6 linked regions of the Homo sapiens genome follow. The protein of the gene in region 6 purifies or fractionates together with the protein of the main gene of each other region. This does not show direct contact. Each region holds a gene or a part of one and is shown on either strand. Other genes may lie near its edges.

Region 1 (4,343 bases), on a different chromosome or scaffold from region 6:
TCCTTCCTCGGGGGCTTTCTTCCTTAGGCCTGGCGGCCCGATCCTAAGGAAGCCCCTGCTTTTCTTGCGCCTGCCGGTGCTCTTCTCCCGCCCGCCTGGCCCTGCTGTCAGCGCCCCCTAGTGCCGGGCCGGCCGCGCATGAGGGCGGTGGGACAGATCGCCCACAACTCCTCGGCTTGCTTTTGGGGAAATAAGGCAACAGAGGGGTCTCTTGGAGTCTGGAGCTTCCATGTAAAATCCCCAGGGTCTACTCTTGGCTTTACCACCCTCTCCATCTCATGGCACGATGGCCTGTCCCCCCAGATTAGGGTGATACTGAAGGAGGAGCAGGAGAAAAAGATCCTATCTGCCTTGTTTTCTATCCATATCCAGATAGCTCTTGACTTTCCCAGGCAGCCAATGTCCCCTGGAGGTCAGGGACCATAGTCAGGCCCTCGGTCCCTGTCCACAGTCCCATCCCCCTACTTTCCCCAATTTGCCAAGAAGCCCTGGTGTCCCAGTGAACTGTCCCACCGAGACCCCGGCGACAGACTCGGCTGATGGATCCCAAGGGCCCCTCCCCTCCCCAGGCCCAGGTGCCCGCCTCCTCCCCACTCCACTCTGTGGCTGCTGCAGGCCTGCAGGGAGTCGGGGTCAGTGGTTCGTTGCTGGCTGGCTGGTGTTGGCCAGCCCAGGAGTGAAGGCCATGACCCCTTCATTCCCTAACCAGAGCCGGCTGTACTGCGCGTGTGGTGGCAGGGGGCCTGGGAGCGGTTGCAGGATGAAGACCAAGGTCTCAAGCCAGACCAGACGAGTGCAACGTTTTTGCACATCTTGCTGTTTCAAGTGACTGCTTTGAGGTCCTGCACTCCTGGGTGGACAGGCCAGACTCCTTCAGTCACAGGCAGGCATCCCTTGGAGAAGGAAAGGTTGCAGGTCTACATATCTTGGCTTGGGGCAGGCTCCAGAGACTGCCCGGTGTGTGTGTGCCCATATGTCAGAGCCCCCGGGGGAGACTGAAAGGGAATCGGAACTGACCACCTTCAAAAAGCCAAGAAGTAATTGGTTCTTCCTTGCACTCAGCAAGCAGGGAATTCCATTCCCAACCCACCTACCCCAGGACCTGACTTGGGTCAAGAGATGGTAGGACAATTGAGCGGCCCACAGCTGAATTAGATGGATCAAGCTGCCATATCTGAGGTGGCAACATGGATGTGCAGGGCCAGGGAGGCAGAGGAGGAGGAGGGCGGGACTCCCTGCCTGCCCTTCAGGTTGATGCTGAGGGGCCTCCAGGAGACTTGGGGCCTAAGAGGAAAGGAGAAAGGAGGCACTTCAGGCAGACAGGGACCCTCTCTTCATTGGAGCAGGCCCCTCTCAAACCAGGCATCCCCTCCCAGGGAAACAGGACACTTGGCAGGAGGTGCCAAAGATGAGCCAAGACCTGGCCAGCAGATGGACTGTGTGGGTGAGCATGAGTGAATGAGTGAGTGGCAAAGCCAGGCAGAAGCTCTAGGCACAGGCAGGGCAGGAGAGAGGTGGGGACAGATCAGGCAGGGATGCTGCAAGCCCTCCCGTGTCCTAGCTTCTCCCCGCCTGCCTCCCCTGTAGAGCCGGGACAGAAGGCACTGTGGAGTTGGGGGCATGCTGGCTGAGCATGAGTGTGTGCAGGCGTGGGTACGGGCTCATGAAGAGCTGTGTAGTCCACACACATCGTCAGGGTGGCCGTGCTTCGGGCCTAAAGGGCTTCCCGCAGCAGGGAGACGGTGCTCTCACACCAGAGTCTGCCAGCCAGGGGGCTTTCCCTCCCCTGGCTGAGCCTTCCTGTGACCTGAGCTGCCCCCTGCCCATCCAGGGAGCAGGCGGGGATCCCCCTGCGGAAGGACACAAGTGAACCCAGAATGGTGCCTCAAGGCAGGCAGCCTGGCCCAGATGGTGCCCCCACTCCCCAGACCCAACTCTAACCAGGCCTGGCCCTCTCCTGTGTCTTGCAGAACTTCAGCGAGAGGGAAGCATCGAGACTCTGAGTAACAGCTCAGGCTCCACCAGCGGCAGCATACCAAGAAACTTTGATGGCTACCGATCTCCGCTGCCCACCAATGAGAGCCAGCCCCTCAGCCTCTTCCCGACTGGCTTCCCGTAGGTACCAGCAACCTGCTTCTGACTGGCCAGCCCCCTCCCCTGCTGGAGGAGGGGAGAAGCCCCGCTCTGGTCCTACCCTTCAGTCTCTGCTCTTCCTTCATCAACCACCTTCCCCAAGCTTAGTGACAGCAGCCGCCCATCCTACCTGGATGGAGAAGAGACCCTTCTCCAAGCACCTCAGCGCACTTGCCCTCTGCCACACCTGTCGGTGGAGGCTGTGGCCAGGAGAGACTGTAGAAGCTCGGTCCCTGTGTATGTTTGCATATGACATCCTGCATTGGATCCGCTTTTGTATTTTTTAACCATACCCACGGTGGGGCGGGTGGGGGGAGCCTGGAACAGTGACCAGATCTGGGGGCCTGAGTGGGGACAGAGTTGATCGTCCACCTGGCCATTTTGACCCTGAGTGGACAGTCACAGCCTCAGCTCATGTCTGGCTGTGACACACACTGCCCCCAGCTTCCCTTGGTCAGCCCCACTCCAGCACGGGGTGAACGGAGGCCCAGAGTACTAGGGAAGGAGGAAGGGAGGACATGCCTCTTCTTCCTCCTTTCTTTCCCCATCTGTTCATGGGAAGAGTTTGTCTTTCTTATCTTTAAGCCCCTTTACCCTGGTCCTGTACTGATCAGTGAAGGAAACCGTGGTTACTGAGGCCCTGTTGAAAAGTGCACGTCTTGTCCAATAAATCACGCTGCAGTTGGTGTCCATCCCTGAGTTGCTGGGGTAAGGGTCCTCTCCAAATGCTGAGCAGAGTCCTATGGCCTGAGTGCCCAGGATCCCAACACCCCCTTTCATGTGCAACTTGGGGGCAGAAGGAGTCAGTGGAGGATTGGAATGGGAAGAACTTTTGTCCTGGAATTTGGATGGGGCCTGATTTAAGAAGCCCATTCTCTAAGCATCTTGCCTGTTACCAGAGGCAATGAGTTCTTGGGGTGCCACAGGGTTGGACCCTCCTCCCTGGGGATCAGGGCTTGCCATGTGCTGGTGGGTTGCTGTCAAGGGGAGAGTCTGGCAAAGCCTCATCTGGGGGGCACCTTGTTGTAATTGCCTCTTTTTAACTCAGAAGATGGAAGGGTGGTCAGGTGAAGGTGGGTATCTCATGAAACCTGGCCGGAACCCTCAGATGACACGTTCCTGATTTTGTCCCCCCGCCCCACCACCACCACTTCCGGACCTAAAGTAAGTGGCAACAGAGACAGGAACAGGGAGAAAAAATGGTGCATTGAGCAGGAAGGAGACGAATGCTAGTCCTTTGCCCCCTTCCCTGGCCCACACTTCCCAGAGACCCCAGGGAGGCCTTGGAGAATGGAAGGAAACCCACAGAGCCAGGTGTGATTTGGGGTAAAGTTTAATGGAAAAGCCGTGGAAACGTTGAGTTCACAAACAGGACTTCCCGTGCAACTGTCCAGCCAGACCTGGGGCAGCTCCTGGGGACCCTGCCCCCTTCACACACACCCATCCCATCCATGGTGCCTGAGAGGCCTTCATCTTCAGTTCCCTCCACCAGATCAGTTGGGCATGTTGGGGGCAGAGATGGAGGGTTGTTGAATCACACTAGGCTCTGTAAGCTGAGAAGACGATCCTGCACAGGGTGGCATAAGCCAGTCCCTCCTGCCAGGGCACCTGCAGGGCGAGAAGTCACATGCCAGACTGAGGCATGCTTGCGAACACTAGCCTGGCCCCAGCAGCAGGGGGTGCTGGAGGAGCTGCAGCTTTTCCCCATCTTGCTGAATTATTGATGGGCCTGGCACTGCCCCTACCCCCAGCTACAGCCATGTTTCAATCAAAAAGGGACAAGGAGGAGAGTGCTACCAGGCTACCTGTGCATGCTGCCCATGGCCTGTCTTCCTGGGGATGGGTTCAGCTGCCCTAGGAAGCATGAGCCCCTCTGAAACCACCCCAGGACACGTGGATGTGGCAGAGACCTTGCTGCCAGGGGCTCTCTCAACCATTCAGGGAACTGGCTGGCAGCTTACAGAGTCAGGAGTCCTCCCTGGCCCGGCCCTTCCCCTCCAGCAGGGGCAAAACAGCTGTGGCCTCCCCCAGGCAGGGAAAGTGGTGGGTGTAGGGCTGGACTTGCCGGCTGAGCTTGCAGGACAATCTGGTTATTCATCTGCTTGAAGTCAGGGCAACTCTTTGAGTATGTGGGGGAAGGGTGAGGATAAGAGAGACCAGATAAGCTGGCCCCACAGCGGCTGCCACTGGAGCTCAGGTTATCAGAAAGG
Region 2 (5,102 bases), on a different chromosome or scaffold from region 6:
TTGAAGATGAAGACAAGGAAAATAACTTGCGTACCTGGTATTCCAGTGGTGCCCCGCTCCCCCTTCAGGCCTGGTCTTCCTGGTAAATTTATAGTGTCCCCGATGTCACCTGTTACATGCAAAAAAGACGGCTAAGAACAGGACTTTCCACTGGGACTTTGTGAGTTTTGCAACTTCTATTTTGTTATATTCCTAACAAGAATAATTTGTTTTAAAATACCTAACAGCACTTGCAGGTCTGAAATTGGCTCACATGCTCAGAGAGCTCTGAATTGTGGACTCCCTGTTTTCACTGGACGGGCAACACTCACCGAAATCACCAGTCGCGCCAATCTCGCCATACAGGCCTGCTCTCCCTGGGGCACCTTTGTCACCCTAAAGACAGACATGAACCATCTTAGAAGGCTGTTAGCGAAGTCAGTTGTAACTCTGAAGTTAGCTCACTTATTTAACTATCCAGTATGCTAACGACAATACTCAAGGTTTGTGATCTTGTCATTTTGTGGAAAACTCGTGTTTTTTAGTGTGTATCATAGGCGGTTTGCTTAGCTGTTCTTTTTGTTTATTTATTTATTTATTTCTTTGAGACAGGATCGCAGTCTGTCACCCTGGCTGGAGTGCAGAAGCACAATCATAGCTCAATGTTGCCTTGATTTCCTGGGCTCAAGTCATCCTTCCGTCTCAGCCTCCTGTGCAGCTGGGATTACAGGTGTGAGCCACTAAGCCTGGCTGCTAATAGTTTTTAAATTTTTAGTAGAGATGGGCTCTTGCTCTGTTGCCCAGGCTGGTCTTGAACTCCTGGGTTCAAGTGATTCTCTCTCCTCTGCTTCCCAAAGTGCTGGGATTACAGGCGTGAGCCACTGCACCTGGCCTTGCTGTTCTTATGGAACTGTGAAGTGATACAATGAAACAAGCTTGGCAACTGCATCATAATGAAGAGCATCAGTGGCCCAGGTCTCCATCACGACAGTGTGGTGATGTCAGCGGCGGCGGTGACTCTGACTACATCCTCGCTCCACCATGCTTTCCCGCGTGCACATGGTGGACCCCGTCTCAAGAGCGTATTCACGCCTCATGAAAACCCTGCCAGGCAGGCACCGTTACTTCCCAATGACAGGCAAAGGAACTGAAGCACAGAAAGGTTTTGCTTAAGGTCACTCAGCCAGCAAGTGGCAGAACCGGGATTTCAGTTTGGGCAGCCAGACTGCAGAGCTTGCTCTCTGCAGATTATAACACAGATATGGGGCTGTGCGCCTCCATCTGTGCACAGAGGGAGACTTCTCCAGAAAGACACAGGTGGCTGGTAAGGAAATTGAGAAGATGCCTGAGTTGCTCGGTGGCTTCCTGGAAGCCCTAGTTTTCCCCTCCAGAGTGGCTTCCTCCCCAGAGGGAGCATGAGAGTTCTGGTCTACCTGGGTGCCACTGGGACTTTAGTACTACAGCATCAATGTACAAGCATGGCCTAACATGAGTCGCTGCAGTATTAATATAGCTAGGCCGGGGGTGGTGGCTCAGGCCTAGAATCCCAGCACTTTGGGAGGCCGAGGTGGGTGGACTGCCTGAGGTCAGGAGTTCAAGACCAGCCTGGCCAACATGGTGAAACCCTGTCTCTACTAAAAATACAAAATTAGCTGGGCGTGGTGGCGTGCGCCTGTAATCCCAGCTACTTGGGAGGCTGTGGCAGGGGAATCGCTTGAACCAGGAGGCAGTGGTTGCAGTGAGCTAAGATCATGCCATTGCACTCCAGCCTGGGTGACAGAGTGAGACTCTGTCTCAAAAAACAAAACAAAACAAAACAAAAGCTCCTTTGTGGGAGGAAGGGGGAGGGTATCCACAGGCTGCACCTTTGTTTAGGTAATGCTCTATTTTTCTTTCTCAAAGCTTACTTTTCTGAAGCAAAACTTAAATACAGTAATGTCCACTCATCTTAAACGCACAGCTCAATGCATCTGAACTCGTGTGTCACTGAAAGACACAGAACACTGTCAGCACTCTATGACAACCCCACCTAAAGCAGCTGTGCTCCCGATACCCCATCTAACAGCCTTGTCAGTTCTTGAACTTCACATCGATGAAACTGAATCGTGTACTTTTCTGTTTCTGGTTTATTTTGTTCAACATAAAGTTTGGAAATGAAGTTAGGTTGTTGGATTTTACCAAGAATTCTCATTTATTGCTGTGTATGGAGATAAAATGCACAGATAATGCTGTGTCTGGTTAGAATATACCACGTTCATTTATTCTTTTCCCTGTTGATGGACATTTGGGCTGTTTCCTAGTTTCGAGCTGTTATGAATAAAGGTCCTTTGGATGTTGTAGGTGTCTTTGGCAGAAACAGGCATCTTTCTTTTTTCTTGTCTTTTTTTTGAGATGGAGTCTTGCTTTGTCACCCAAGCTGGAGTGCAACGGCGCAATCTCGGCTCACTGCAACCTCCGCCTCCTGGGTTCCAGCGATTCTTCCGCCTCGGCCTCCCCAGTAGCTGGGATTATGAGTGCGCAGCACCAAACCCGGTTAATTTTTTATATTTTTGGTAGAGACGGGGTTTCACCCTGTTGGCCAGGCTAGTCTCGATCTCCTGACCACAAGTGATCTGCCTGCCTTGGCCTCCCAAAGTGCTGGGATTATAGGCAAGAGCCACTGCACCTGGCTGGCATCTTTCTTTTTTAAAGTGACCTGAATAGCACACACAGACTGGCTAGAAGATACTCTCAGCTGCAGATTTTGGGAGTGAGGGGAGGAAGACCCCTGAAGAATTCTGTACACCAAGGTGGGCCAGACAGACACACAGGCAGGCCCTGGCCTGCTACTAAGGGTTCACACTGTCAGGCCTCTGAGCCCAAGCTAAGCAATCATATCCCCTGTGACCTGCACGTACACATCCAGATGGCCGGTTTCTGCCTTAACTGATGACATTCCACCACAAAAGAAGTGAAAATGGCCTGTTCCTGCCTTAACTGATGACATTATCTTGTGAAATTCCTTCTCCTGGCTCAGCCTGGCTCAAAAGCTCCCCTACTGAGCACCTTGTGACCCCCACTCCTGCCCGCCAGAGAACAACCCCCCTTTTTCCTTTACCTACCCAAATCCTATAAAACGGCCCCACCCCTATCTCCCTTCGCTGACTCTCTTTTCAGACTCAGCCTGCCTGCACCCAGGTGAAATTAACAGCTTGATTGCTCACACAAAGCCTGTTTGGTGGTCTTTTCACACGGACGCGACTGAAACACATCAAGGGGCCCAGACCTTCTGATCTGCTCCAAATGTGCCCATCCCCCTGGGAAGGCCAGCCGTGTGCTAGGGACTGTGAGAATACACTATCTTCATATGAACGAGGCTAGAAATGGAATTCTAGGAAACGGAATCTATGGGGAGCCACGCTGTGCTATGTTATACACACTGTCTATACAGCACTCAAGAAAACTGCAAGGTAGCTACTACCTTCATTCTGCAGCTGAGGGAGAAGGTGTGGAGAAGAGAGCCCTGCCCAGGGTCAGGGCTCACCATTGTTACCATCACAACAGCGTGTCTGGCCCATGTCAAGTGCTCAACAGACATCCGCTGAACAAAGGCTGAGTGAACGGTGGCCCGGATGGGAAGCCAGGCTGCCGGGCCCAGGTCTACGCTGTGATTCGGCCATGGGCTCTCAGGCCTGGTGTCACTGATGTGCTCAATTTTAGAGCTCTGATCCCTGAAAATTCAAGTTTTGTTCTCTCAAGGCCACCATGAAAAATGCAGACAACATGCTTCACCCAGCACAAGCCCACAGAAGGGCCACGGCAGCCGGTTGGACTCACATCACATCTGCATGGTGTCCAAGTGCAGCAGCTCCTTCCAGGGCTGTGTGGACCCCACCAAGCCTGAGGCTGCCCTGAACCTGCCACTGACACTCTCACCCTAGCAAATTCCAGACCAAAGCATGTCCATTCACAAGCAAAGGGGAGAGGAGCTCACAGAACAAGGGGAGTAAAAGACGCCCACTCACCCGGCTTCCTATGAATCCTGGGAATCCCGTAATTCCAGGGGGGCCAGCCACCCCAGGGAATCCTGGCAAACCGGGGATGCCGGGGACTCCGATGTCTCCCTTGACTCCTTTGATGTGGCCGGGCCTCCCAGGCAGCCCAGGGATTCCTGACAGCCCTGGGATGCCTGGCATTCCTTGGATACCTGCAGGAAGACCCTGGTGTGTAACACTCTGGTGAGGACGCAGCACCCGCCCTCCAGTTTTCAATTTTGCAGCCTGGATGCATTTTGCTGTCCTACGTGCTGTGAATCTTTTTTTTTTTTTTTTTTTTTTTTGAGACGGAGTCTCGCTCTGTCGCCCAGGCTGGAGTGCAGTGGCGCAATCTCGGCTCACTACAAGCTCTGCCTCCCCGGTTCACGCCATTCTCCTGCCTCAGCCTCCTAAGTAGTTGGGACTACAGGCGCCCACCACCATGCCGGCTAATTTTTTTGTATTTTTAGTAGAGACGGGGTTTCACCGTGTTAGCCAGGATGGTCTTGATCTCCTCACCTTGTGATCCACCCGCCTCGGCCTCCCAAAGTGCTGGGATTACAGGCGTGAGCCACCGCGCCCGGCCAGTGCTGCAAATCTTAAGATGGGAAACCGAGGTTACTCAGGCATCAGAGAACAACCCTGCGCCAGCTATGGACACACAGGGCGCCCAGAGATGAAAAGCACGAAGAAAGCCAGGTGGAGGGCACGGGCGTCTCTGGGGACGGAGAAGGGCACGAGCTGGTGCGGGCTGGGGCGGCAGGGACTAGGGGCCCCTGGCTGCAGGTCAGAAGCCTCACCTTTTGCGCCCAGGTATCCTTTCAGCCCCATAGGCCCTTCATCTCCTTTCTCTCCTTTAATGTCTTTCATTCCTGGCAGGATGACAGGAGGTGGTCCTGGGGGCCCAGGGTCCCCTCGGCTGCCTGGAAGGGAATAGAGTGCTGTCATTTTCTGGGGGCTCCAGACCACGCAGGAGAACACAGGTGAAGGCCTGGTCCCTGAGCCATAGGGCTGCACGTCTCCCCCAAGCAGGGAAGCCTTGGAGAGAGACCAAGGGCGCCGGAGAAGCCTCTCCTGTGTCCATCGGAGTAGTTGGAGTTGGGGGTGGCT
Region 3 (5,604 bases), on a different chromosome or scaffold from region 6:
TCGACACAGAGACTTGAAGACTGACAACAGACTCTGTGGCAGTAAGATACCAGCATGACAGCAGGCCCGGAAGGAAACACATATTTTACTGCAAAACAGGTTTCTTTCACATATTTTGAAGTCGCTCTGCAAAGCTGTTTTTTGTGGGGAAAATCTACATTCTGTAGAGAATCCCTATCCCTTTCAAGGTCTTTTCTCCTGAGAGAATTAACTAGAGTCTGGCACCTTTTATTTATTTTTCCTTTTTTTTTTCCTTTTTTTTTTTTTTTTTTTTGAGACAGAGTCTTACTCTGTTGCCCAGGCTGGAGTGCAGTGGCATGATCTTGGCTCACTGCAACCTCTGCCTCCCCGGTTCAAGCGATTCTCCTGCCATCAGCCTCCTGAGTAGCTGGGATTACAGGCGTGTGCCACCACGCCTGGGTAACTTTTGTATTTTTAGTAGAGATGTGGTTTCACCATGTTGGCCAGGCTGATCTTGAACTCCTGACCTCAGGTGATCCGCCCGCCTTGGCCTCCCAAAGTGCTGGGATGACAGGCGTGAGCCACCACACCCGGCAGAGTCTGGCACTTTTTAATAAGAAACATTAACAGTCTTTTCTCTGTGAAGCCTGATACCTGGAGGCTTCATTTGCCTAAGAAACTTGGTCTCCACAACCCCTTAATGTAGACAGTCCCTTTTATTGATTCCAGGTCTTTAGATAAACTCTTTGAACCAACTGCCAATCCGCATGACCTAGAAGCCCCCCTCCACCCCCCACTTTCAAGTTGTCCCGCCTTTTCCGACTGAACCAATGTATATCTTACATGTGCTGATTGATGTCTTGTCTCCCTAAAATGTATAAAACCAAGCTGTGGCCCTACCCCCTTGGGCACTTGTCAGGATCTCCTGGGGCTGTGTCCCAGGCTATTGGTCACATATTGGCTCAGAAGAAATGTCTTCAAATATTTTACAGAGTTGGACTCTTCGCCGACACTGCCCTCCAAGGTTCACCCTGTTGGTGATGACGGGAGAAGTGGCACTTGGAGCACTGTTCGCAGGGGCGCTGAGCCTCCTCTCTGCCTAGCTTTCTTTCCTGCACATGTGGCCTTCCCCTAGCCATTGTGTAGGCAGGTCCTCCAGGGAGCCGGCTTCGCTGCAGTCTCCAGGACCTGGCCTTCCCGGTCTCTCTTTGCCTGACACTCTCTTAGGCCATTCCTGTTCCTCTTTCCCCACCCTCAGAACCGGCAGGCCCTCCCTCCTCCACAGCGGTTCGGCCTTAAAAAGACCCCTTTGGGGCGCACTTTTGGGCTGCTCACGGGACCTGAGCTTGCAGGTGTGAAGACCCTTGGAGTCCCAGCCAGGTTCCCACTTCGTTCTCTCCGCTCCCCACCCGCGCGACCCCTCGGCGCCCCGCCCCATGCCCCGCGCCTTTCGATGTCCATCCTTGCCGTCCCGCGCCCGCCGTCCCTAACCGGCGTCCAGAGACCCTACTCCCTTCGGTGGCCCCGCCGCTCAGGCCCCGGCCCCGGCCCTGCCTCTCTGCTTAACCAATGGCACGCCTCACTCCGTATGGTCCCGCCCTTCCCTTAGAGCCCGCCCCTCAGTCCCCGCCCTTAGGTCCCCGCCCTCCGCCGTCGCGACCTTAGGCCTCACCCTCTTCGGAGGGCTTTGGCTCTGGCCCCGCCCCCCATCTTGACGGTCATTGGCCCGCGCCTGCGTCGCGGGCGGGAGGCGGGGCGGGGCGGCGCGGCGCGGAGCCGAGCAGGACGGCCGCCATCTTGCGCGCAGCTGGAGTCGGTGCCTGAGGTTGCAGCCGAGAGTGTGCGCCAGCCCGCGGCCCAGCCGAAGCTCTTTCCCGCCGCCTCTCCGCGCCTCGCCCAGGTTCAGCTCCGCCTGACCCTCCGCTTGGCACGGTCCCCTGACCCTCAGTCCGGCCTGGTCCGGCCTTCCAGCCGCCCCGGGGACGATGAACGGAGGATAAATGGTGCCCAAGGCAGACAGCGGCGCCTTCCTGCTGCTCTTCCTGCTCGTGCTCACTGTCACCGAGCCGCTGCGGCCAGGTGCGCCGCGCGATGGGGGCGGTGTGGGGGCTGGGCGGCGAGCGGGGCCGGGGTCGCCCCGGGACCTCCTTTCACCCGCGGCGCCCTCCTGCAGGGGCCGCGCCTGGGGCAGGGGCGGGCGGGGCCTGGCTCGCGGGCCGCCTGGCACTCTCTGCGGACGCCTGCTGGAGCTTACCTGGGCTCGCGGCGCCTCGGACTTCGTGCAGCTCTGCTGTCCAGGATGTTGCCTCTGGGCCCTTCCCGGGAGCGGCGGCGGCCAGGAGCTACGCCACGGGCGCACCCTCTCGCCAGTCCAGCGTCGGAGTCGGGCTGGGGACAGTGGCTCTCAGGGGCACCTGGTTTCACAGACGTCCTCCCAGCAGTGGCCTAGTGCCAGCCTCTCAGTCCTGGAAACTCCTCGCCTGGACAGCGGTGGTTGTGGCTGTCATTCAGTGAGACGTTGCGCTAAGGAAGTCCTCAGGTCCCACCGGGCCTAGAGGAGGCACCAGGAGTCAGCCTAGCGTTGTGTGGCCGGCGCGAGCGTCCCGGGAGCAGAGACCTCGCCACTGTGCGGGGCCCTTAGCCGTGCTGCGTGTATGTGATGAATGAGTCCGTGCTTTGGAACTCCCCTCGGAGCTAGTGTGTTCTTAAGTCTGTGGTGGGGAATCAGAACCGTGGCAACCAGGAGACCCTTTTCTACCTATTTCGGTGTACCTCCCCTTGAACTGCACCAAAAAATCAAACTCCCTAAATGCAGGGCCGATGTATCCATCAGGCACAGGAATCCTGGTATCACTTGCCCACGGTACTTTTAGTAGCCTTCGAATGTTATTTTATTTTTTTTTAAAGTCAGCAGAAAAAAAATGAACTTTTAGGTCAAATAAAATGTTTTCGTATGTATATTAATACAGTCATCTTTATACTAATACAGTGAAAAAGCATGACTCTTAATATTTCTTAATGGAGGAAAGGTCCCATGAAGGCAGAAGTGCCAGGGCCATCTTCTCTGATGACCTGGGTGTGGGAGCACGGGGTGTGTGGCCCTCTCCTGTGCCCTAGCCAGGCTCCCAGCCCAGATACACCGCACCTCTTGGCTCTGCGCTTGTGTCATCTATGTGGAATGTCTGCCTCCTCCCTAGTGCCTGCCTGGTGGCCAAGGCCCTGACCGGTGCTCAACCTGGACAGATTCAGTGATGCTTCTCTGGTCTCCCCATGTAGAGCTAGTTGCTCACTGCTTTTGGCTGCTCTCTGGGCAGCGGGATGACTAGTTGTGGGGTGGCCTTGGTAAGAACAGAAGCCAGGAAAAGGGCTACCTGTGGAGGAGGGTATCATATAGGCTCTTGGAGGTCAGAACCAATGGGTTTGTGGATTCTTGTGATTAACTTCTTTAGAAAACATATATGTACGTGTAGAGAGGTAGAAGGTCACCGTTTTCTGATTCTTGAGTCCCAGTTTTGCAGATGAGGTCACCGGGCTCAGGTGAGGCCATATTATGCCTGGCTTCTTTGGGGTGCCTCTGGTTCCAGGCCCAGCATCTCCTGCCTGGGTGATAGAGGTGACTGACGTCCCCGACTCCTTTTTCCTTGCCAGCCTTTTCACATAGCCTGCCAACTGGCCAGCAGCAACTGAGAAAGTGCCTGTGGGTGCTTGCCCCCTGCCCATCCCTAGGGAATCCAAGTGACAAGAACAAGCCCCTCCTTTTAGGAGTGCCTGATGTGGAACAGAGGCCAGGTGTAAGTCACTTGTCACACTCCTGTGTGTTGAATACCCTGGAGTGTGGGGTCCCAGAGGTGGGTGGAGGTGGCCATCTTTTTGTACCTGTGAAGCAGTGAGGGCGTCACAGGAGACCTCACACTGAGGTCGGAGTAGGGCATGGGTGGGGTGGATCTGGTAGAGGGAGCAAACTTATTCTTTCGATTCCATGACTCTCCAGATGAGAACATTGCAGCTACCCCTGGAGGCGTCTTGAGTTGCCCTGCAGAACCCGGGAGCTGCAGCTGGCTTCCTGGCTTTGGCTGGGCAGGGAGGGCAGGCCTCTGGGCCTGATGTGTTCCTTGTATGCCCGTGTGTGCCTCTTCACACATTCACCATGTGTCCTTCCTGAGAGTGCTGCAGGGATCTGCCTGGCTGGTGCTTGCAAGAGGCTGGGGCTTCTCTGGTCTTAGTCTGCGTTCTTTCTGTGGGGATTCCGGCCTTAAAAGCATACTTGAGTATGAGGAAGGTATCAGTCAGAGCCCACTTCTCAGGAGGGTGTTTTCTGACTCCTGCCTGGTGGGGTCCCTGAAGATGATGCCAAGCCACCTGGGCTTCCTCTCTGGTACAGGGCAGGGTGGAAGGCCTTTCATGGAGTTATGGGGCAGCAAGTGCTTGCTGTACTTGACCTTTCACCAATTTTTTTTTTTTTTTTTTTTTTGAGACAGAGTCCTGCTCTGTTGCTCAGGCTGGAGTGCAGTAGCGTGATCTTGGCCCACTGCAACCTCCACCTCCTTGGTTCAAGCGATTCTCCTGCCTCAGCCTCCCGAGTAGCTGGGATTACAGGCATACGCCTCCACGCTCGGCTAATTTTTGTATTTTTAGTAGAGATGGGGTTTTGCCATGTTGGCCGGGCTGGTCTGGAACTCCTGACCTCTGGTGAGCCACCTGCCTTGGCCTCCCAAAGTGCTGGAATTACAGGCCTGAGGTACCATGCCCAGCAATTTTTTTTTAAGTGCACATTTGAACTTGATTTAAGATGTGTCATGTGCCGGACACTGTTCTAAGCACTAACATATGTTAACTCTCAAGAGGTCCCTGCTAGATGCTGTTTTTAGCCTCATTTAAAGATGGGGAAGCTGAAATCCAGAGCACTCATGAAGCTAAGGCTGAGATGAGATTTCATCGTAGGAGTCTGGCCTTCCCCCCATCATGCACCCGTGACTGGGGTCTGTGCACTCCAACTGTGTGTCTCCAGCCCAGCCACAGGAGTACCTCATATTATGCTCTGAACAGCTTCCTTAACCCCAGGTGGAGCCACAGACTGCCTCTGTCCCCTGTTAGGTCCCAGGGTCCTCTAGGTGAGGGTGCAGAATCTTTTTCCATGTGGATACTCCAGTCTGAGGGACAGAACCACTCACCCTCTGCCAAATCCCTTCTGTGTTTGGCCATGTGACCACTGATGATGTGTGTTATGATCACTGGGGGTGTGATGAGGAAGAACGGTTGGAGACTACTGCTGAGGTAACTGACAGCGAGATGGTGGGGGGATTTGGGGACCACTGATTGTGATACTGTCTCATTGGCCCTTTCTCCATCTGTGTAGAGAAGGCAGCATCGACTGCTGATTCTAAAACTGTTTTTCTTTCTAGCTTTAATTGTGAAACAAAATTATATCATGAGCCACAGCTCTATCCAGGTTGAACCCACCATACATAGCTGAGAAAAAATTGCCTTCTGAATGCTGGTGCACCCTGGTCCCTTCCTGCTGGTTGTTGGTCCTGTACAGGGCCTGTGCTCAGCTAGGCCCCTTGGTAAGGTAGAGGACTAGAAGGTCGTCTTCCTTCTATTGTTGGTACAGCTAGCTGGGAGAGGCAAGTGACTTGTCTAAGG
Region 4 (4,431 bases), on a different chromosome or scaffold from region 6:
GGCATTTGTACTGAGGTGGGTATCAGGGGAGCTCAGCTCAAGGTCACTGTCAGCAGCTCCCTGCCCACAGAGCTCCAGGACTTCTCTGGGAATGGGGCCCCAGTCAGGTCTGTCCTCATCTTTCCCCAGTGGCTCCTGAGGGAAAGTGGGGCAGGTGCAGGGGTGACAGCAGCCAGCATGGGTGGCTGGCAAGGGGGGAGTTGGGCAGAGGAGCTGCAGAAATGGGAGAAACCCCAGCATGGTCCAAGCCTGCCAGGTTAGGCCAGGAGAGGCAGAATGTGCCCTGTCCGTTCCTCACTCAGGCCCCATGCCCCCTCTGTACATGCCCCTTAGGGCAGCCCACGGACCCCACATGCCTAAGCCAGGGTCCCACCCGGCATTTCCAGCACTGGAGCTCAGGCTGTCCTGTCCCGTTTGTGGCCCTGTCTGTCTCTCTTGTTTTGAACTCCAGTGAGGACAAAGGAGTTCTTATTGGGCTCCCAAAACCCCACCAGGGGTAAGCCTTGCAAAACCAGTGCCTGTCACCTGAGCAGAAAGGAGGAGCTGTTGGTATTCAGAGTAGGGGCCATCGGGAGACGACACCTGGGGCCAGGCCCCAGGCCTCGAAGGGCATAGGGGAGGTTGCTCCATAGGAAGGAGACAGCCTGTGCAGAGGCCTGGGGTGGGAAGCCAAGGGTGCAGACACCAACCCCAGGGCAGTGTGGGTTGAAGGGAGCGCTTCTGTTCCTTATGTAACAGCTTGACTGAGATGCACTTCACATAACACACAATTCACCCATTTAAAGTGGGCAATTCAGTGGTTTCTGGTGCATTCACAGAGTTGTGCAGCCATCACCACAATCAATTTTAGAACGTTTTCATTACTCCAGAAAGAAACTTCATGCTGTTGAGCAATCACTCCCCCACGGGCCCTGGCAATCCTAGACTATTTCTGTCTATATGGATTTACCTGTTCATACAATATGTGGTCCTTTTGCAACTCACTTCTTTCACTTCACATATTTTTCCCCCTTTTTATTGATTGATTGATTGATTGAGAGAGTCTCACTCTGTAATCTAGGCTGGAGTGCAGTGGCACAATCATGGCTCACTGCAGCCTCAACCTCCTCTGGGGCTCAAGTGATCCTCCCACCTCAGCCTCTTGAGTAGCTGGGATTACATGTGCATACCACCACACCCAGCTAATTTTTGTGTTTTGCAGAGATGGTGTTTCACCATGTTGCCCAGGCTGGTCTCAAACTCCTGAGCTCAAGTGATCCACCTGCCTCAGCTTCCCAAAGTGCTGGGATTACAGGCTTGAGCCACCATGCCCAACCCACAACCCACTTAGCATGTTTTCAAGGTTCATCAGTATCGTAGCACGTATCAGTACTTCGTTCCTTTTCATGGCAGAATACTATTCCATCGCATGTATGTACCATATTTTGTTTATCCATTCTTTAGTTGATGGACATTTGGGTTGTTTCCACGTTTTAGCCACTATCAATAATGCTGCTCTGAACATTCATGTACAAGTTTTTGTGTGGACATACATTTTCGTTTCTCCTGGGTACATAGCTAGGAGTAGAATTACTCAGTCACAAGCTAACTCTATGTTTAACTCTTTGAGGAACTGCCCGACCGTTTTCCAAAGCGGCTGCACCATTTTCTGTTCCTCCCAGCAGCAGATGAGGGTTCTGATTTCTTCACATCCTCGCCCACACTTGTTATTTTCTGTCTTTTCAATTATAGCCATTCTCGTGGGCGAGAAGTGGCATCTCATGATGGTTTCGATTTGCATTTCCCTGCTAACTAATGGTGTTGAGCATCTCTTCATGTACTTACTGGTCACTAGCATATCTTCTGTGGTGAGATGTGTCTTTAGATCCTTTACCTATTTTTAAATTGGCTTGTCTTTTATTATTGAGTTGTAAGAGTTCTTTATATATTCTAGCTACAAGTCCCTTGTCAGATTTATGATTTGCAAATCCCTCCTCCCATTCCATGGCTTGTCTTTTTACTCTTTTGATGGCCCCTGGGGGAGCTTTTTAAAAGGATCGTGCGGGGAAGGGGTCCAGGGCCAGAGGCCTCAATTCTTTTCTTTCTCCTCCTCCACCAGCACTCAGTAGAACCCTCCACAGCCTGCCTCCCTTTCCTTCCCCACCCTCACCACAATCCCACAGAGAAGTGGGTGCAGAGGCCATCCACCTCATTGTCCGCCCACAGCCAGGCCAGACTCAGATACAAATACATCACTTGTGCACTTGGTTAGGCCAAATATTGCATTTTACAATTAAAATACTTGACCCCCTCCTGCTCTTCTCCCATCCTCTGTCCTAACACAAACATCCTAATAGAAGGGAGGGAGCACAGAATTTAAAGTCGGGGCTGAATTTGAGTTCTGGCTTGCACACTTCCTAGATGTGTGATCTTGGGTACATGATGTCACAACTTCCAGCCTCGGATGCCTCGGGAGTGGGATGGGTTAACAGTCCCTGCCTTTGGGGGTTGGGAGAATTTAACCAGGTGAAGTCAGTGAAGGCTCTGGCCCATGACATGGGGTCTGTACACATGGGTGTCCTGCTGGACAGCTCAGAGTCAGCATGACAAAAGCCCGTTCCTGCACTGGTTTCGCTTGCAGACCACAGCCTGGGTGAGCCAGTTCCATCTCTTGGGGGTGCCCTCTGCTGACGGCTCACGGTTCCTGTCTGCAGGCTCTGTCCGTCTCCTCGTTTGTGACCCATTCTGGGACAGCATGGAGTCTAAGGCCACACTGGCTGTGGGTGGGGTCTCAGGGCTTCTAGATGAGCTGAGTCACATGGCCTCGTGAGTGCTACGCAGGCCACTCAGATGGCATCTGGAGAGAGAGGCTTGCCAGCCGGTGTCTGTAAGACCTTGTGCAGGATGAGAATGACATCTTCTCTCTCCTGCCTCTGCAGACAGAGTAACCGAACGGTGCGCGTGACCCAGGAATTCCTGGAGTACCACGTCAACGGGGATGTGAAACAGGGCCCCATTTCCGATAACTACCTGTTCACACCGGGCAAGGCCGCGGTGCCTGCGTGGGAAGCTGTGGAAATGGAGATTGTGGCGGGACAGCTTGTGACTGAGATCCGGCAGTACTTCTACAGGTGCTTCCCCTGGGGTGACCCCCACAGCCCGGCACACAGTCAGCGCACGCGTGCAGGCAGCTCAGTGAATGAGGGTCTGTCTTTGCTCTGAACCCCAGCTTCCGGGCCGTGGTTGACACGTGGTCTGATGAAGAAATGAATTGCTCTGGTGTCTGCATGCTGGCTGCGTTTGCGTGTGCTGTGTCACGTTGGTTGGGAGCTAAGTTCAGAGCTGGGAGAGAGACCCACAGACCCTGGGGCCCACAGAGCACCTGTTCTTCCATGATCAGAGCAGACGTAAGGCAGGCCCGGCATGGCAGCCCTGCGGTGTCGGGGAACCAGGCTGCTCCCAGCCGCTCGGGGTCCTGGGTGGTGCTATTGTCCACATGGCCCAAGAAGGCTCCCTGCCTTTCGGCGTACCCTGCCCTGCCCACCCTGCCCACATGAAGGAAGGGAAGCAAAAAGGAAGCATCTAGAAGGTTCCTGGAGCTTCACTTACTGATGCTCCCTTCTCCTCCAGGAACATGACAGCACAGAATTACACGTATGCAATCCGCTCCCGGCTCACCCATGTGCCGCAGGGCCATGACGGGGAGCTGCTCTGCCACCGGATAGAGCAGGAGTACCAAGCCGGCCCCCTGGAGCTGAACCGTGAGGCTGTCCTGAGGACCAGCACCAACCTAAACAGCCAGCAGGTCATCTACTCAGACAACAACGGCTACCAGATGCAGCGGAGGCCCTACGTTTCCTATGTGAACAACAGCATCGCCCGGGTATGTCCTGCAATGCCCACAAGGCACGCTCCCAATGGCGCCTTTCCTGGACCCATTAAGCATCAAATTGCAGCAGTAGAGGCCAGTAGAGGCCTCCAGTGAGAATGTTTTTTTCCTTTTTTTTAAGATGGAGTCTCACTCTGTCACCCAGGCTGGGGCGCAATGGAGCGATCTTGGCTCACTGCAACCTCTGCCTCCCAGGTTCAAGCGATTCTCCTGCCTCAGCCTCCCGAGTAGCTGGGATTACAGCCGCCTGCCACCATGCCCAGCTAATTTTTATATTTTTAGTAGAGATGGGGTTTCACAATGATGGCCAGGCTGGTCTTGAACGCCTGACCTCAGATGATCCACCCGCCTCAGCCTCCCAAAGTGCTGGGATTACAGGTGTGAGCCACCGCGCCCGGCCTCCAGAGAGAATTCTTTTAAAGCCTGTGTATCTGCCCGTTCAGGGCTTGAGCGTGCAGGCTGTGAGTCAGACTGGTGTCTGAATTCTGGTGCTACCACAGACAAGAATAGTATGTGCCTTGGCTTGTGCCTCGGTTTCCTCTCCTGTAAAATGGCTCCTTCAT
Region 5 (5,102 bases), on a different chromosome or scaffold from region 6:
GGGCGTGGTGGTGTGCACCTGTATTCTCAACTCAAGGAATCCTCCTGCCTTGGCCTCCCAAAGTCCTGAGTCTGCATCCTCGGATTCTCTTGGCTCTGCTGCTTACCATCTGGGCACCACGCTAGGTGACTTACTGCACCTCCTGGGGCCTTGGTTTCCTCATCTGTAAAGAGGAACCTGCCTTGAAAGTTTGTAAAGCACCTTTATTCAGTAAATCTTTATTGAGTACCTACTGTGTGCCAGGCACTACTCTAGGAGTTCGGGATACAGCAGTGAAGAACACAGACGGACAACCCTGCCCTCACGGAGCTTATATTCAGAGGGAAGAAAGCCACTTAGCAGGACAAAGAGCTAAAATGGATAGTACAGTGTGTTGAGAGGTAACACACATGACAGAAAAGATAAGGTATGGGGCCAGGCACGGTGGCTCACACCTGTAATGCCAGCACTTTGGGAGGCCGAGGTGGGCGGATCACCTGAGGTCAGGAGTTTGAGACCAGGCTGGCCAACATGGTGAAACCCCGTCTCTACTAAAAATAAAAATAAATTAAAAAAAAAACAGCCAGGCGTGGTGGTGGGCGCCTGTAATCCCAGCTACTCGGGAGGCTGAGGCAGGAGAATTGCTTGAACCCAGGAGACAGAGGTTACAGTGAGCTGACACAGTGCCACTGCACTCCAGCCTCCATGACAGAGTGAGACTCCATCTCAAAAAAGAAGAAAGAAAATGTCTAAAAGCTGCTTGGCCTGTCCCCTGGACTGTTGTCTGGAAGAAAGGTGATGCCTGCAGGCATTCTTGCTGTGGAGTGCACTGGATGTCCCAAGTTGGACATGCCTTTGGAAAGGCCTCTGCCCTGCCTCAGTAACATTCCCTCCTTGAGTACCCTTGTTTTCTATCCCAGGACATCCTCTTTGATGCGAATACACACAAAGTGAAGAAGTTTGTTCTACACACCAATTACCCTGGGCATTATAATTTCAACATGTGAGTACACCTGTCTGTACCTCCCCTCTGTGAAGTGAGTTTTGGGCTGAAAACCCCAGGAAAGAGCTTTTGGCTTTGGGTGTTCACTAATTTATCTACACCTGAATTCTTGCTGTTTCATGGGAAGTGAATTTCCTGAGTGCTTGCTGTGTTCCTGGCACAGGGTCCAATGCCTTACATCTCTCTGTTTGAACCCATTTTACAAATAGGGAAATAAGTTCAGAAAGCTTGATGTCTTATCCAAGGTAATAGGCTCTCCAGAACCCAGGGCCAAGATCTTTTCTGTTCGACTTCCGTGCCTAAATCTGGCCTCCCCCAGTGAACACTGTCAGGCACTCAGAGCCAGGGCTTTGGGCAGGTGTGTTTGGTTCTGTTTCTCCTGGGGTGTGGGGTTGGAATATGGGAGTGGCCAGGCCTTCTAGGAGGCCCAGCCTTTACCCATTTGCCTTCTCTCTAGTTATCATCGCTGTGAGTTCAAGATCCCACTAGCCATAAAGAAAGGTGAGTAGTGAAAGCTCTCAGGGTAAGGGAGGGGTTTTAGAGTCTGTTTTCCACTATGAAAAGGGAGAAAGATCGAAGCAGTGGTTGGATGTGTGGAGCTTCTGCCCATGGCCTCAGTTCCTCTGGGGTGGGCTCATTGTTCTGGGGGCTGCAGTGTTCTTGGTCTGAGTCTCCTAGAGGCCCTTGAGGCCTCTTCCTATGACTGTGGGATTGCCGGCCTCTGGAGGGGAGAGTTTCTTATCTACAGATGATCATCCAGGGGGCCCCAGCCCATCCTTGTTGCCTGCCACCCACTGCCAATTGTTGTTGCTCACACCTGACTGACCTCCCTTCACCCCTCCATCCTCTTCCACCCTGGAACTCCAAAACAGCCTGTTAATCCTCCCCATGTACTCCAACCCCAGTGCAAAGGGACACCAGGTCTGGTTCCTACCTAGGGCTGGGGCCACAGGTAGGCTGGGCCAGCTACAAATCTGCCCCACTGTCTTCTCTTTTCAGAAAACGCAGATGGTCAGACAGAAACATGCACGACCTACAGCAAGGTGAGCACCTATCTTCCTACCTGGCATAGCCTGAGAATGAGGTGGACATGAGCCTGCAGGCAGTATGGGGCTGTGTCCTCTAGGCCAGCCATTGGTCACAGACATGTTCATGTCCCTACTAACCCCTGCTCCCCTCTATCCCTCTTGCAGTGGGACAACATCCAGGAGCTCCTGGGCCACCCTGTGGAGAAGCCTGTTGTCCTGCACAGGTGAGTGGGAGTTTGATGTCCCCGGCCACCCCACCTGACTCCTCAGAGCCCAGAAAGCCCAGGGAAGCCTGGCACAGTGGATGTTGCTTAAAAATTACAGAAGTTTCTGATATTGCCACAAGCATACTTCCTGCCCCACTCTGCACATTAGGACTGAGTCAACTGTTCTGTGTGTTCATCTTTGATAGAGAGAATGTCCCCAGGGGTAGCTCCCCTCTCCCAAGCCTACCTCTAGGTATGGGGGCCTTCTCACCCTCAGTTATTCAATAAGGAAGGAGGGCTTGGCTGGCTGGCCTGGGCTCTTTTTCCCTTTGAGCTTTGAGCTGCTGCCTGCTGAAGTCCACAGCCCCGTTCCTGGTTGCCATGCTGCCTGAGATTCTCTCACTCAAGAGGGCCCTCTTGACTCCTCGCCACCCTAGTCCAGTTCCACAGTAACTTTTTTGTCCTGTTGGGCTCTGTATGTATAATTCTGAGTTGAGTGAGACCATCCCTACCCCTAGGATCTTGCAGGCCTGTGTGGGAAACAGACAGACACTCACAGCCATGAGAGACTACTGGCCAGTATCCCATACCCCAGAAAAGACTGGATCCCTTGCTTTAAGGCCGTGGCCTCTGTCTGCCTCTCTAATTCTGAATTCTTTGGCCTCAGGTCTTCCTCCCCAAACAACACCAACCCATTTGGTTCCACATTCTGCTTTGGTCTTCAGCGAATGATCTTTGAGGTAAGCTGTGGAAGCCCTAGAAATAAACTGCCTGGGGGGTTGCTGGTCATGGCAGGGCCAGGTGAATGATGGAGGGAAATTGGGGAGGGCATCACTGCCATAGTGGGCAGATTCATCCTTCTTCAGCAACCGTGTCTGCTGCATACCTGGCCTCCCCACACTTAACAATGAAGGTTCAGAAATGATGTTGAGAAATCTGGGGTCACAGAGGCCGAAGCAGTGGTCTGTGTCCAACAAGATGGGAGGTAACGGATCCCAAGTTTCTATCTGACAACATGATTATAGCAGGGAAGGGAACCACAGGGCAAGTGGGGCCCAGCAGAGGGTGTTGGGGGCCCTCCAGTGGCATGTGAACAAATGCATTGTAGGGGAGTGAGTGGCTCTGGAGGCCCTGCTGACTTGGGAGAACAGCAAGCTGCCCTTGTTTTCCCTGTGGATGCAGTATCTCCAGCAGACACTTAACAGTTCCAGAAGGACTGGACACGTGGCCATGGTAAAGGCTGTGTGTAACCATTGAGAAACAGGCAGATCTCAGGCAGAGGGGGGCCTTTAGCATGAACCAGGGGAGGTTGAGGAGTCGGGAAACCCAGCCATTAGGTGCAGGTATGTCACACAACCTCCAGCCCTCATGCACAGGATCTGCCTACATCCCTTTACCTCTCCCCCTTGACCCACTGTCCTCTTCTCACACCAGGTCATGCAGAACAACCACATTGCCTCGGTGACCCTGTATGGCCCCCCCAGGCCTGGTAGCCACCTGAGAACAGCGGAACTCCCCTAGGGACACCACCACCCATGCCCCTCTGTCCCGTGGAACTGTGCATCACATCCTGCTCAGTGGGCCTCTGTACCACCCTGTGGGTTTTCTTGGACACCTGGCCAGTGCTGAAGGGCTGTTGTGATGTTCTGAGGTTGGGCTCAGGCTGGGTGCTCTGCCATGGGCTGAGTGGCCCAGATATTCTTCTGTCCATCTTTGGCCTGCTGGTGCCAGCAGGGGACACAGACTGCAAAGAGAAGCACAAAGTTTGAGCCTTGATTCCTGGACCCAGGAGCTCTCAACTAACAAGGAGGCAGGAGAGGTCAACCCTTGTCCCATGCACATTGGGAAGACTTGGGGCTCTTTCTGTGACTGAGGACACAGGCACCCAGGATAAGGACAAGGTCCTGCCTTTGGCTCCACATTGCCACATGACCCTTAAGGCAAGCAGGTAGCGTGTCCATAGTACTTGGTTGCGACATTTGCACTACATCCACTTTAGTTACTTGATGAGCTGGCTGTGGCCAGGGTGGCCCACCTGCCCTTCCCTGTTCCTTTCTTGCACGCGCTCCCTGCCTGGGCACACCAAACTGGTTGAAACACAGCTTTCTACCATCCAGGTACATGCCCAGGCCTGGTTCTCACCCCTGTTGGAGTCAGCTTTCAAGATTGCCTGTGCCCCTGCTCTGCCCCATCCTGGCTGGCAGGGCTGCATGTTTCCATCCTGTTTGCCTCTTTTATTTAATGCCAAAGTTTTAGCCAAAGACATCTTCCTACTTTTGTTGTGTTTCAGCATTCTGTTCTGCACTGTGGGCTGGCTCTCTGCCCCAACCCTGGGCACTGGCCCCTGGCTGGGCCATTTCATGGCTCAAAGCCTCTGGGGGCTCAAGGAAGGCTGGGCTGCTCAGTCCCTTCATGGGTCTTGCTAATGGAAAGTAGCATATATGTGCTTTAAAAATATTAATCCTTTTGAAAAGAACTGAGAAGAAAAATGTATAATTTTATCCCATTTTTAATATTTTGGTCTAGCAACTTGTGATACATAGATGACAATTTTGTGAGTTTTTCAAATGTGTGTACAGATTTTTGTAAATATGACTCTTTTGTAATTAACTCATGTACAGCCTCATCCTGTATAGTTTAATGATGAATGTGCAGGGGACCTGTCTCAGGCTCCTATATGGTTCCTGGGCCTTATAGCCAGGTTTGTGTGGCGCTCCCGACTTTTGTGACTGACTGGTGTCTTCCCATTTGGACTGTGGCCTGGCCAGAGCCCCTTGCATATCCCCACTGTCAGGGGCAGCCAGGACTGTTCCCATCCTCCTGGAATGGGGGAACCTTCCTTATCCCCTGCCCACATCCCCTCTCCAATAAAGCACCTGTGCCCTC
Region 6 (5,804 bases):
GAGACTTAAGAAATAGTTGGTTACTGTAGTGACTGATACAGACCATAAATGAGTCCAAACTCTTACAGGTAGTATGGGATGGAGTTGGGACTGGAGTCCACGTCTTCTGACATCCAGTCCCATGGGATTCTGCCCCCCACCCAATCTTTCTCACCTTTGCACCATCCTAGGGAGATTACAGAATTCTTTCCCACCCATTTTCTTACCCATACAACAATCCTGCAATCCAGGCCTGGATGGTTATCTAGGAAACTAAGGCCCAGAAGATAAGTGGCTTGTCCAGACCACCACACTCAAAATTGATGGATCAAAGACTTGAACTCGGCTGGGCGCGGTGGTTCATGCCTGTAATCCCAGCACTTTGGGAGGCCGAGGCGGGCCAACACGAGGTCAGGAGTTTGAGACCAGCCTGGCCAAGATGGTGAAACCCCGTCTCTAATAAAATACAAAAATAAGCCAGGCGTGGTGGCCGGCGCCTGTAGTCCCAGCTGCTCGGGAGGCTGAGGCAGGAGAATCGATTGCAGCTTACCGCAACCATTGCCACCCAGGCTCAAGTGACCCTCTGCCTCGGCCTAGCCTCCAGAGTAGCTGGAGCCACATACGTGTGCCACCGCACCTGGCTAACTTTTTAAAAGAAATTTTGTAGTGACAGGTGGTCTCACCATGTTGTCCAGGCTGGTCCTTTTTTTTTTTTTTTTTTTTTTTTTTTTCAGACGGAGTCTTGCTCTGTTGCCCAGACTAGAGTGCAGTGGTGCAATCTCAGCTCACTGCAACCTCCACCTCCAAGGTTCGAGAGGTTATCCTGCCTCAGCCTCCTGAGTAGCTGGGACTACAGGCATGCAGCACCACACCCGACTAATTTTCGTATTTTTAGTAGAGACGGGGTTTCACCATGTTGGCCAGGCTGGTCTTGAACTCCTGGCCTCAGGTGGTCCGCCCGCATCAGCCTCCCAAAGTTCTAGGATTATAGGAGTGAGCCACCACGTCCGGCCATAAAGTGCATTTTCACCCACCAGATGAAGCCCTCCTCTGCCAGCATTCTGCTTCCCCCCATCATTAGAGCGGCCAGATCCTAATTGTGCATGTCGGCCTTGCCTTCTGCTACATGTGCACCTTCCCCGCATTATACAAATCCTTACCACAATGTTGTGAAACAATACTGGGCATGGGCTTCTCTCCCTGTTTCACAGATGGGTCTAGAGACTTACATGACTCAGCCAAGGTCACACTGCAACCCCTGGTATGACCTAGAACAGGCTTCTCAGCCTCAGCACCATTGACATTTGGGGCAGGGCAAGTCCTATTGCCCAGTGCATTGTCGGGTGTTTAGCAGCGTCTCTGCTCCCTGCCCACTGGATGCCAATTTACATCAACCCCAGCCATGACAACCAAAAATGTCTCCAGATGTTGTCAAAAGGTCTCCTGATGGGCTGAACCAGCCCCATTGAGAAATACTGCCTTAGAACGCTGTGGGTTCAGCATGCCACCTTAATCTTTTCATTGAAAACACAACTCCTGGCCGGGCGCAGTGGCTCAGCCTGTAATCCCAGCACTTTGGGAGGCCGAGGCGAGCAGATCATTTAAGGTCAGGAGATTGAGACCAGCCTGGCCAACATGGCGAAACCCTGTCTCTACTAAAAAATACAAAAATTAGCCAGGAATGGTGACACACACCTGTAATCCCAGCTACTAGGGAGGCTGAGGCAGGGGAATCACTTGTAACCCAGGAGACAGAGGTTGCAGTGAGCCAAGATAGCACCACTGCACTCCAGCCTGGGTGACAGAGCAAGACTCCATCTCAGAAGGAAAAAAGAAAAAAAAAGAAAGAAAACACAACTCCTCTCCTCAGTCTTACCCAAGGAGGGGAAAAAAAAAAAAAAAAAAAGAAAAGAAAAGAAAACACAACTCCAAGGACCAACAATTAGTATTTTTCTTCCTTCCCTAATACACAACATAATCTCTTTAAAACAGATGGAACTCATATTCCAGTATCTACCCTTGGCATCTTCTCAAAGTATTTCTAGGGTGACAGTTGGGAGAAAATGGAAAAAAAAAATTTGGACACAAGCTCTTTTTTCCACTGGGCTTTGAGAAAATCCCCATCTTGCGTGCTCCTAGTGTATCTCTCACTGATAAGTTTGCTCATAAAACCAGGGCCTTATCCAGGGCCACGCTTACAGAACTCCCACGGACACACCATGATTAGGACCCTGCTGCTGTCCACTTTGGTGGCTGGAGGTAAGTCCTGTCACCCAGAGGCACTGGTTTCCCATCCCCTGGTGGGGCTGGAAATGGGATCTTCCTGTCCTCCCCTCTCGCCCCCACCCAACCCCTACTGCATTCAGACCTATAATCATAAGAAAACCGAAATGGAGTTTCAAAGAATTGGAGCAAACAGAAGGATTTTATGACCTCTTGGGATCCTTCTAGAACAAGGGTTTTCTATTTGGGGGTTCAGAATGCAGCATGTATAGTTTACATTGTGTGGGTCGCTGCTTCCTGGACTCAAGACCCTTTCTCTTTTCACAGCCCTCAGTTGTGGGGTCTCCACTTACGCGCCTGATATGTCTAGGATGCTTGGAGGTGAAGAAGCGAGGCCCAACAGCTGGCCCTGGCAGGTGAGTTGACCACACTGTACTTCTCCCCGTCCCTGCCCCACTCCCTTTACATCCCCCCTTTGCCCTTCCACCATGGCGTCTATTGTGCTGGCAAAGTTAGGATTGATGGGATTCAGAGAGCAGCACAGGAAACTTCACCAACAAGATACATTTCCAGCTGGGCACAGTGGCTCATGCCTGTTATCCCAGCACTTTGGAAGGTCGTGGTGGGCAGATTACCTGAAGTCAGAAGTTTGAGCCCAGCCTGGCCAACATGGTGAAACCCCGTCTCTACTAATAATAAAAAATTAGCCAAGCACAGTGGCACACGCCTGTAATCCCAGCATCTCGGGAGGCTGAGGCAGGAGAAAGACTTGAACCTGAGAGGCAGAAGTTGTAGTGAGCTGAGATCGCACCACTACACTCCGGCCTGAATAACAAAGAGAGACTCCATCTCAAAAAAAAGAAAAAGATACATTTCTGTGGCCTTGGCCAACCTTGGGAGTGAAGGGAGAGGTGCCTCCTCCAGCTGCAGTAAAGAGCTGTCCCCTCCCCACTGCCCATAAACAAATTTACAACTATAGTCTTACTCTGTTAACCAATCAGAGGCTTTCTTTCAAATGTACCATTATCCTATGAACCATTCAAGACTACCTATGCAAATATTCCTTGCTTTAAGGAACCAATCAGTGCTATTCATGCAGATTCATCTTTAACTACAGGCAAATCAATGTTACCAAGGAAAATAAATGTTTCTTAAGTTGATATAATAGTGATATTAAGACTAAACTGCCGAGTGGGGCACAGGCACAAATTACTAAGACGTGTTAACGGTGGGAATTTCAAAAGAAATGTGTAAAGTTTACATTGACGCAAACAAATATAGTAAAATCTCATTTATCTGATATAATTGGGACTGACTAAATGAAAAGTTGGTTATAAAGAAATTATTTTAAATCATATATGCTGTAAACATTTTATTTTAGACTATGTAAACAATTTTTTGAGTTCTTAACTGTCTTTTTCATATAAACCATGCCCCATAATATCTCATCTACAAGTCCATTTCTTTAAAGCAGAGCAATAACTTTGAGATATTCATAAAGCAATCTGAGTTACGAGCCCATCCCGACTTTTACGACTTTTCCCCCCAATCTTTCTGTTTCCTCAAAGACACTAATTCAAGAGCAATTTTTTAGGAATCATGGTATTCAGTCTCTTCCAAGCATTTAACTTTGTTTCACAACTCTCTTTCTGAACTCATATTTCATTGGTTACATATTTAATCAAATTTCACTATTGCAAACATAATTGATATAAACTGCTTTAGGAGCAAACCCAGCTGAACCAGGATGAGTTTCTAATTTAAGTAGAAGGAGCAACTAGCAGCCCACTAGCCTTGAGCATTCAGAGTGACCTATGCAGCAGTCACTGTGTTTAGAGAGGCCAGCGTTCATTCATCTGCTCTTTGATTAAGAGACTGTCCATGATAGGCCAGGCGTGGTGGCTCAGGCCTGTAATCCCAGCACTTTGGGAGGCCAAGGTGGGTGAATCACTTGAGGTCAGCAGTTCAAGACCAGCCTGGACATGGTGAAACTCTGCCTCTACTAAAAATACAAAAATTAGCCAGGCATGATTGCGGGCACCTGTAATACCAGCTACTTGGGAGGCTGAGGCATATATATATATATATTGGGATATATAGTTTGTTTGTTTGTTTGTTTTTGTTTTTTGGTTAGACAGAGTTTTGCTCTTGTTGCCCAGGCTGGAGTGCAATGGTACAATCTCAGCTCACCACAACTTCTGCCTCCCAGGTTCAAGTGATTCTCCTGCCTCAGCCTCTGTAGTAGCTGGGATTACAGGCACGCACCACCATGCCCGGCTAATTTTGTATTTTTAGTAGAGACAGGGTTTCTCCATGTTGGTCAGGCTGGTCTCTAACTCCCGACCTCAGGTAATCCACCTGCCTCGGCCTCCCAAAGTGCTGGGATTATAGGTGTGAACCACCACACCCAGCCAAGAGGAATAATATTTTAATGCATTTTTTTTTTTTTTTTTGGAGGCAGAGTCTTACTCTGTCACCCAGGCTGGAGTGCAGTGGCGCAGTCTCAGCTAACTGCAACCTCAGCCTTTCAGGTTCAAGCAATTCTCCTGCCTCAGCCTCCTGAGTACCTAGAATTAGAGATGTGTGCCACCACACCAGCAAATTTTTTTTGTATTTTAGTAGAGACGGGGTTTCACCATGTTGGCCAGGCTTGTCTCAAACTCCTGACCTCAGGTGATCCACCTGCCTCGGCCTTCCAAAGTGCTGAGCTTACAGGTGTGAGCCATCCTGCCCAGCCAGCTATTGTAATTACAGTTATTAATCACCCTGAGAGCCCTGCACCGTGGCTTATGTTCCCCATTTCCAGAGAAGGTAACTGGGACTTGGAAAGGTTACAGAATTACCCAAAGGCACTGGGTTAGCCCGGGGGGGAATGAGGATTCAAATCTGGTTCAGTGCTTGTTCTTTTAGCTACACTTTGCTGGCCACAAATAATACGTATTACGTGGACGAAATTTCCCATCTGTAGGATGGTTTCAGCACATTTTTAAATTGGGGTGGGGGAGTAGATACTTTTCAGTGTCTTTTTTCACTTGGTCCAATTTTAAGCATCTTTTTAAAAGCCAGTTCATCTAAGGCCCCTTAATGTCACAAAAACGAGAAATGCCCAGTGGCTAATTAAAAACAAGGACGTGGCCAGGCACAGTGGCTCACGCATGTAATCCCAACACTTTGGGAGGCTGAGGCAGGTGGATCACCTGAGGTCAGGAGTTGGAGACCAGCCTGGCCAACATGGTGAAACCCCGTCTCTATTAAAAGTAAAAAAAATCAGCAGGGCATGGTGGCAGGCACCTGTAATCCCAGCTAGTGGGGAGGCTGAGGCAGGAGAATGGCTTGAACCTGGGAGGCAGAGGTTGCAATGAGCCAATATCGTGCCACTGCACTCCAGCCTGGGCGACAGAGGGAGACTCCATCTCAAAAAATAAAATAAATAAAGTGGAAGAGACAATAAACAACTGAATAGGTAAACTAATAACACGCCGGAAAACGAAAGATACTATGAAGAGTAAAGCAGAGTAAGGGGAAAGAGACAAGTGTGTCTGTGTGTGCATATGTACATGAGCGTGCACGCATGTGTGTGTGCACATTGTTTGGGATAGCGT

The links.
Region 1: the proteins of CELA2B (region 6) and BCAS3 purify together in Homo sapiens (affinity purification with mass spectrometry; one large-scale study listed by BioGRID and IntAct). This does not show direct contact.
Region 2: the proteins of CELA2B (region 6) and COL4A2 purify together in Homo sapiens (affinity purification with mass spectrometry, with the first as the bait; one large-scale study listed by BioGRID). This does not show direct contact.
Region 3: the proteins of CELA2B (region 6) and DGCR2 purify together in Homo sapiens (affinity purification with mass spectrometry; one large-scale study listed by BioGRID and IntAct). This does not show direct contact.
Region 4: the proteins of CELA2B (region 6) and MAN2B2 purify together in Homo sapiens (affinity purification with mass spectrometry; one large-scale study listed by BioGRID and IntAct). This does not show direct contact.
Region 5: the proteins of CELA2B (region 6) and PHAF1 purify together in Homo sapiens (affinity purification with mass spectrometry; 2 studies listed by BioGRID and IntAct, with this or other methods). This does not show direct contact.

The regions. Positions count from the first base shown.
Region 1 is NC_000017.11:61,390,007-61,394,349, forward strand, and holds the end of BCAS3 (BCAS3 microtubule associated cell migration factor), read left to right. Parts: intron 1-1,970; coding exon 1,971-2,119; 3' UTR 2,120-2,825; downstream 2,826-4,343. UniProt on the Homo sapiens protein: Plays a role in angiogenesis. Participates in the regulation of cell polarity and directional endothelial cell migration by mediating both the activation and recruitment of CDC42 and the reorganization of the actin cytoskeleton at the cell leading edge.
Region 2 is NC_000013.11:110,484,718-110,489,819, reverse strand, and holds part of COL4A2 (collagen alpha-2(IV) chain preproprotein), read right to left. Parts: intron 4,916-5,102; coding exon 4,793-4,915; intron 4,166-4,792; coding exon 3,984-4,165; intron 376-3,983; coding exon 312-375; intron 110-311; coding exon 35-109; intron 1-34. UniProt on the Homo sapiens protein: Type IV collagen is the major structural component of glomerular basement membranes (GBM), forming a 'chicken-wire' meshwork together with laminins, proteoglycans and entactin/nidogen.
Region 3 is NC_000022.11:19,118,564-19,124,167, reverse strand, and holds the start of DGCR2 (integral membrane protein DGCR2/IDD isoform 1 precursor), read left to right. Parts: upstream 1-1,755; 5' UTR 1,756-1,961; coding exon 1,962-2,040; intron 2,041-5,604. UniProt on the Homo sapiens protein: Putative adhesion receptor, that could be involved in cell-cell or cell-matrix interactions required for normal cell differentiation and migration.
Region 4 is NC_000004.12:6,606,189-6,610,619, forward strand, and holds part of MAN2B2 (epididymis-specific alpha-mannosidase isoform 1 precursor), read left to right. Parts: intron 1-2,918; coding exon 2,919-3,110; intron 3,111-3,609; coding exon 3,610-3,862; intron 3,863-4,431.
Region 5 is NC_000016.10:67,143,395-67,148,496, forward strand, and holds part of PHAF1 (phagosome assembly factor 1), read left to right. Parts: intron 1-899; coding exon 900-982; intron 983-1,439; coding exon 1,440-1,483; intron 1,484-1,981; coding exon 1,982-2,025; intron 2,026-2,175; coding exon 2,176-2,234; intron 2,235-2,883; coding exon 2,884-2,956; intron 2,957-3,650; coding exon 3,651-3,737; 3' UTR 3,738-5,102. UniProt on the Homo sapiens protein: Plays a regulatory role in autophagic activity. In complex with BCAS3, associates with the autophagosome formation site during both non-selective and selective autophagy.
Region 6 is NC_000001.11:15,473,928-15,479,731, forward strand, and holds the start of CELA2B (chymotrypsin-like elastase family member 2B preproprotein), read left to right. Parts: upstream 1-2,176; 5' UTR 2,177-2,198; coding exon 2,199-2,238; intron 2,239-2,529; coding exon 2,530-2,618; intron 2,619-5,804. UniProt on the Homo sapiens protein: Acts upon elastin.